Linked DNA regions of Homo sapiens. The protein of the gene in region 1 interacts with the protein of each later gene in a biochemical or structural test. Each region holds a gene or a part of one and is shown in the gene's direction. Other genes may lie near its edges.

The links.
Region 2: the proteins of OTUD6B (region 1) and LIN28B form a complex in vitro, tested with the Homo sapiens proteins (one study listed by BioGRID).

The regions. Positions count from the first base shown.
Region 1 is NC_000008.11:91,068,713-91,072,466, forward strand, and holds the start of OTUD6B (deubiquitinase OTUD6B), read left to right. Parts: upstream 1-1,631; 5' UTR 1,632-1,672; coding exon 1,673-1,754; intron 1,755-2,425; coding exon 2,426-2,577; intron 2,578-3,754.
Region 2 is NC_000006.12:105,071,998-105,075,751, forward strand, and holds part of LIN28B (protein lin-28 homolog B), read left to right. Parts: intron 1-3,754. UniProt on the Homo sapiens protein: Suppressor of microRNA (miRNA) biogenesis, including that of let-7 and possibly of miR107, miR-143 and miR-200c.

The DNA.
Region 1 (3,754 bases):
TTACTTAGGTTTAGCTTAAGAACATGCGTATTTGTATCTACAATACTACATGCTAAAAATAAAACAGTATTTGTCCAATATATTGAACATGTGGTATGCCCTTCCAGTTTAAACGTAAACTGAAATTTTACACCCAGCTTATGTTTCTATTTTTGTATTTAGTTTTAATGCCCTATACATAACAATTTAAACTTAATGCTCCTTAACTAGTTTTAATGCATACCATCAGTTCTTTCATACAATTGCCTCCCTATTCTTATTTTAATTCAGGTTCTCTGTTAGCTGCAGTAAATCCTTCAGCAAAATTTTCAGGGAAAGTTCTTGGTTGATATACTTTCCTAACCCCTGTATATCTAAGAATGTCTTCCAGTTTCCTTTGTAAAGAAATGATAACTTGGCAGAGTATATAATTCTTGGCTCAAAATTATTTTCCCTTAACACTCTAGATATTGTTCCACTGTCTTCTGGCATTTAGAATTGCAGGAGAAAAATCTGAGGTCAGCCTGACTTTTGCCCCTTTGTAAGTAACCTGCTTTCTCTGACTGGATGCTTGTAAAATGTTTCGTCTTTGAAATTCAAAAACGTCACCCGGATATGTCTAGATGCTGCTTTCTTTTCATTAAACTTTAAAGGTATCCTATGAGCCTTTTCCATTTGTAGATCTAGTTCGTTCTTCAATTCTGGAAAATTTTTTCAAGTAGATCCTTTATTGTTTCAGCTCCACTTGCTCTGTCCTCAGTTTCAGGTATTCCTATTATGCATAGATTGTATCTCCTGGACCGGCCCTCTAGATCTCTCTTTTTCTCCTCTTAATTTCTTTTCCCCTTTTCTCTGTATTCTGTGACAATTTGTCGTTTTGCACTTACTTCAGTAATTCGATTTTGTGGCCAATCCAGCGTGCGCCCTTCTGTTAACTCTCTCAACTTCCTGGTATTTTCCAAGCGCTCTAATAGTACCCTCTTTATCATCGCGCATAGGTGTTTAAGCTCCTGTATTATATGATTCTCAATCCTTCTTATATCTTGTTTCCATCTCTATATCCGTTTCAAGAGGAGGCATTTTCTCGATTATTTAGCGCTGCTCCTTTTTTCTCAGGGGCGGTATTACGACCTTGGAGACAATAAACATAATTTAATTCCACACAGCCCCAAACAGCCCAAAGATTCCCATTGATAATTATCGACGGCTTTATTAAAATGCGTTATTTTTCTTTCTTACCTTTTCAGTTGCTTTTCTTAGAAACAGGGACCAAAATCAAAGATTAAAGAGGTCCTCTGAAGCAGGGAATGAAATAGACGTTGAAAACTATTCCCGTTACGCCATCTCTGCGCGCCTCACGTCAGGGCCAAGAGCCTAGCGCGTAGCTTTATGGCTGACTCGGCTCTGGCGCTCTAGCCAATTCCGAGGCTGCAAACTCCGCTTCTCCGCTCGCAGTCTGGTTCCTCCCCTGCCGCCCCGCCCATCACGGCAGGGTCACGGTAGCGCGCACGCGCAGCACCCCATTTAAGTTTCTCGTCTTTGCAGTGGCTTTGCTTAGATCCGGTGCCGCCTTGAAGGCGGGGCTGGGTCCCAGCCGTAGCCAATGGAGCCCCGGGTGAGGGTTGAGGGGTGGAAGGTGCCTACTAGCCGGTGCAGGTTTCTTCTAGCGCGTGTGCTGGGGTACCTGGTCGTCATGGAGGCGGTATTGACCGAAGAGCTTGATGAGGAAGAGCAGCTGCTGAGAAGGCATCGCAAAGAGAAGAAGGAGTTGCAAGGTGAGGCGGAAGGAAGTGGGAATCTGGAAGCCGCCGCGACTGGGGGAAGGGCGCGTGGCGGGTCGATTCTGGGGAATCTCAAGGCGTGACTTATCTGGATCACCCTAGACTTCCCCTAGTAGCAAGTGGCCTCTTCTCTCTTCACCTACCCCGGCGGCCCTTTAATTCCCCAACCTTCAGAGGCTTCCCCTTCTGAGGCCTGCGGCGTGCCCCCTACCCCGCGCCGCCGCCGGGGTGCAGGTGTCTGAAAATACCTAGAAGCCGCCGTCTTGGTCCGCTCCCAAACCCACGATGCCTCCCTTTTCTATACCTGCCCCAGTTACCGATACTTGTCCCTAATGGGTGTATTTTGAATGGACCCGCCTCAGTTTAGGAGGTTCAGAAAGGATACCGGAAAGATTTAAAACTGGCTACAGTCAGGTTTTTTTCCTTCTCTTATCTCGCCAAACAACCGAAACATATTCAAGATTTTGTTAATGAAGTTTTTTTTTTTTTTGGTCTCAGCTTTATCTGGGATCTTCTCTCTCTGTAGCTGCCTGTTACGTGATGACTCTTTCTTCCATAATTACTTTTTCTGTACCCTTCGCCCGTTACCATCCCCTTATTGGTTCCTGTTTCTCATCTCCTTTTACTCCTGCGTGTCTGACTTAATGATTTTAATGGCTTTTCAGCCAAAATTCAGGGCATGAAGAATGCTGTTCCCAAGAATGACAAGAAGAGGAGGAAGCAACTCACCGAAGATGTGGCCAAGTTGGAAAAAGAAATGGAACAGAAACATAGAGAGGAACTGGAGCAATTGAAGCTGACTACTAAGGAGAATAAGGTATGTGAAATAAATGTTTGTCGTTGCCTACACCATTTGAAAACAGCTGTCCACTTCTGTTAAATGTTAAACTGCTTTTTTTTTTTTTTTTGAGACGGTGTCTCGCTTTGCAAAACACGCTCAATCTTGGCTCACTGCAAGCTCCGCCTCCCGGGTTCAGGCCATTCTCCTGCCTCAGCCTCCCGAGTAGCTGGTACTACGGGCGCCCGCCACTACGCCCGGCTAATTTTTTGTATTTTTAGTAGAGACAGGGTTTCACCATGTTAGCCAAGACGGTGTCGATCTCCTGACCTTGTGATCCACCCGCCTCGGCCTCCCAAAGTGCTGGGATTACAGGCGTGAGCCACCGTGCCCGGCCCTGTTAAACTGTTTATTATCTAAAATCATAAAATTGGTAGGGAAATGAAATCACTTAGTTATGCTCATGCATCACTTCTCATTAATGTTTTTGTGACCAAGTTTACAGGGCAGTGTGTTTCTATAAGGGAGATCGGCAAAGAAAGTGCTATACTTCTTTACCTATTTACTTGCCCAAAAGATGAAGCTTCACCAAATCAAAGTTGGAAGACCAGGCATCTGATCCCAGAATTGCGACTGAATGGGATTGTAACCTGAGCAAGGTTACTTAATCTTTCTGAGCTCAAATTTTCCCACATATATAATACGATACAAATATTTCTACACTCTAAGCACAGGTTTTTGTAAGAATCAAGAAAGTGAACGTGAAGTCATTTTTGTTATAAAAGTGCTTTATTAACAAGTTGTAATGAATGAAATTTTACTGATGTTTCTTGGGTAAGTTGGAGCATCCTAACTTTCATAATTTTAACTAATATTTATTTTATCGTTGGATCTAATATATATGTGTCAAATACTTTGGTTTATATGTATTATCTCATTTAACCTCAGTAACACACTGTGAGGTATTACCTATGAAGTAAGTATACATAATCCCATTTTTCAAGTGGGAAACAGGGTTAGAGAGATTAAGAACTTTGTCCAGGAGTCGTAACAGCTGTTGATTGCCAAAGCCAGAATTCCAAATGAGAACTATCTTACTCCAGGAAGTGAATACTGAATTCTGTTACAGCTTTGTATAGTGTGGTATTTATTGTATGGGTTTTGGATATGAAGGGTCATATAGACCCCACAACCTCACTCCATCTTTGATAGAAAG
Region 2 (3,754 bases), on another chromosome or scaffold:
CTTTTGTTTTATAGATGGGATGCTCAAAGAAACACGCTGACCTCCCCAGTAACAAAGTCTCAGGAAAAGTCTACTTCAATTCTTTTGTGTCTGTGTGTGTGTGTGTGTGTGTATTAGTGTTTTAAATTCAAGATCCTAGATATTTTAGACTTACATATAATAAAATTACATCAATATTGTTGGGTATAACATTTTTATGTAATCAAAATGGAAGTGAAATTTAATTGCTTTCAATTAAAATTCCTTTCTAGATAATCTCTAAATTTCTTCATCAATACAATTTAGATATTGTAGTTCCCAATTCATAGGCTTTGGGGGTGGATTAAATTATATAACACATTAAAAACCTTTAGCACAGTGTCTAGAATTTAGTAAGCTCTCAGTGAATTGAACCTGTTTATTATTTCTGTTATTACCATTTTAATTCTCTTAAAAGTAAAAGTATGTTTAGTCCTTCTGTATATAGAATATTTTGTTTTTAGCATGATTAAGGTAACAGAGGGGCATGATGCTGGCTTCTATATTCCAGAAGATCCAAATGAAAACTTTTCTGGTGTTAAATGTGTATTTATTATCTAGGAAACTTTTTAAAAGAACATAAATCATCAGTATCACCAACTAACTATTTTTGAAAACTCAGTGTTTTTACCACTGTACTTAGAATATATAAAAATTTAAGTATGGAAAACATACTTAAATAAAAATTAACTTTACTAAAATTGTTATTGTTTAACTGGCTTACAATCTTATGAATTTGGTTATGAGAAGAATGAAATAAAAGAAACTAATTCATTAAAGTATAGGTTGATAGAGGTCAGAAGACATGTACACTATTAAAGAGACTTACTAGTTCTGTGACTCATCAAAGTTTCCTAACTCCTCTCTTGGTATTTTGGGGCTAGTCCTGTGGAGTGAGTAAACAATACCCAAATGTTTATTTAGATTGTGTAGAATCAGTCAGAACAAAATGGGGCCTTCTTTAGGAAGGTTGGTTCCAGGATCTGCCCCTCTTACCTTCAGGAGGTGTACAGGGTAGGCAGATTGCTTCCATCAATATGCTCTGGATCCTTTGCTTGTCAGCTCTCTGTGGTTCTCTAATAACCTTTCTGCCCACCCACCTCCCCACCACCAGCTGGCTGTGATCCAGCACTTCCATGTGTTCAGTTGATTGGCACACAATTTTAATTAAATAACAAGTATTAAAACATACTAGAATAAAAAATAATAGAGCTGAGGAATGTTATTAGTATCATTTCTGGATTTTAGTTGGACTGTACCAAGGTTTAAAATGATCTCTTCAAAGAATCAGTTATTTTTCCTTCAGTTTAGTTCCTGTAATTTTTTTCAATCTGTGACTTTTCTTTAGCCCCTCTGCCTCCCATTTGGAAACTTTATTAATCCTTTTTTTAGTCCGTTTTTCCCAGGAATTTTTATGAAATTCCTTTTCTGTATTCGTACCTTCTTCCTGCCCAAAGCTTGCACTTCTTTCTCTACTCTTTTCTCTGTCCCTGATACTGCTTTACGTACTATCTTTCAACAATTCCTTCCCCTTCAGAAGCTTACAGATCACTGTCAAAATTATCCTTAATGCCCCCATCAGACCCTCAGAATGTGGATTTGAGTTTACATATAAATTCTTATTAACTTAAAATGTTCAAGTACTGTGAAGAATCCTAAGATACATTTTTTTCCATTATACTTTTAGACAAGCAAATCTGGATCTTCCTCTGTGGTATCGCCCCTCTTCCCAATTTTTTTCATCACTCTCAGGATCGAGAGGGAATATATAACTGATGAATATTTTCATTTACACCATTGGAATATTATTTAAAAATTAATGTCTATATTTTAACCTAGTGGTTGTCCGCTGTGCTCAGCTCCATTATTGCTGATATCATTTGAAAATATAATCTGCTTATTCAGTTGTTTGGATCAAAAAATGCAAACATTTTTAATGGTCATAGCAGATCTAAATTCTGATTTCTGAATTAGTTTTCATTTTTTGATGAAATCCTCAGAAATTTGGGTATGTTTTGATTAACTTATTAACTAGTGTAGGTGTTTGGACTTGATTTTTAAAAACTCATGTAATTACTTCAGAATATAATTAAATAGTTCTAAAGGTCTAAACAATTTGTTTTTATTTATTTAACCATCATAAGTGCCTCTATTCTATCCATTGTTGCCATTCTTTCATTTAAAATCTTTTCTTTTTTTTGAGACAGAGTCTCGCTCTGTCGCCCAGGCTGGAGTGCAGTGGTGCAATCTCAGCTCACTGCAAACTCCGCCTCCTGGGTTCACGCCATTCTCCTGCCTCAGCCTCCCAAGTAGCTGGGACTACAGGCCCCCGCCACCATGCCCGGCTAATTTTTTGTTATTTTTAGCAGAGACAGGGTTTCACCATGTTAGCCAAGATGGTCTCGATCTCCTGACCTCGTGATCTGCCCACCTCGGCCTCCCAAAGTGCTGGGATTACAGGCGTGAGCCACCGCGTCAGGCCTTAAAATCTGAAATTATAAATCTTATTTTGATAGTGTCTCAAAAATGTTGACTTTGATTTGATTGTTAATTATCTTCTATCTTTAAACGCTCCTTAAATAAGAAATAATACTTGTAGAATATGCTAGCTCATTAGAATTACAGTATTTATAAAATGATTTTATGAAGAACTTGATAACCGTCTAAGATTAAACTGAACATTTTTGTTTATTTTATCTTTGTTTGTTAAAACAGAGTCTAGCCCTGTTGCCCAGGCTGGAATGCAGTGAATCAATCTTGGCTCACTGCAGCCTCTGCCTCCCTGGATCAAGCAATTCTCCTGCCCCAGCCTCCTGAGTAGCTGGAACTACAGGTGTGCCCCGCCACACCTGGCTAATTTTTTGTATTTTTAGTAGAGACAGGGTTTTGCCATGTTGGCCAGGCTGGTCTCAAACTCCTGACCTCAAGTGATCTGTCCGCCTCAGCCTCCCAGAAGTGCTGGGATTACAGGCATGAGCCACTGCACTTGGCCTATTTTATCTTATTTGTAATGCATGAGAAAATATCCTTTGTGCCATTGGTTCAGCATTTAATAAAGTACTTAGCATGAATAATTTTATTTTTTATGTTGGACTATGGGAATATATAATAAAGTATGAGTATAGTTTTCTTTGTATGGTCTTTTGTGTGAGACTATGTCCTTATATTTCTTAAGCATATAGCTAAAAATGGACACACATGATATTTTTATGCTCACATCACAATGTAAAATTCATTCCAACTACAAAGGCAAACTGATGTGGAACAGTGTGGAGGGTGAACAAAGGGGACTAAAATCATGTATAGCTTGTATGGAGTATATAGTTGTGGTATAATTTGTGAGCTGCAAGGTAGCTGAACATTTCTATTTTGGTGTCAGTCCCTTGGGAAGGAAGGGGTTTCATAATGGAGAGTGATCTGTACTCTTAGTAAGAGTGATTGACACTGAATGATTAAATAGAAGAGAATATAAATACCACTCCTCCCCCTTTTAAGGCTAAGCACATAGACACTAAATGCAAATCTTTTCAATGTGGAAGAAAGTCTGGCCTAATGATAGCACATATCAGGAAAGCCAAGGGGGTGAATTAACTATGCAGATCAAAATGTAAGGAAACCAAAATTATATAGCATCCTTAAAAATAACTTTTATAGCCCAAATCTAATGGTAAATGCACAGATAGAGGGTAATTGAAGATCCCATTTGTGAAAGTAGAATACTGACATCAGGCTCCTG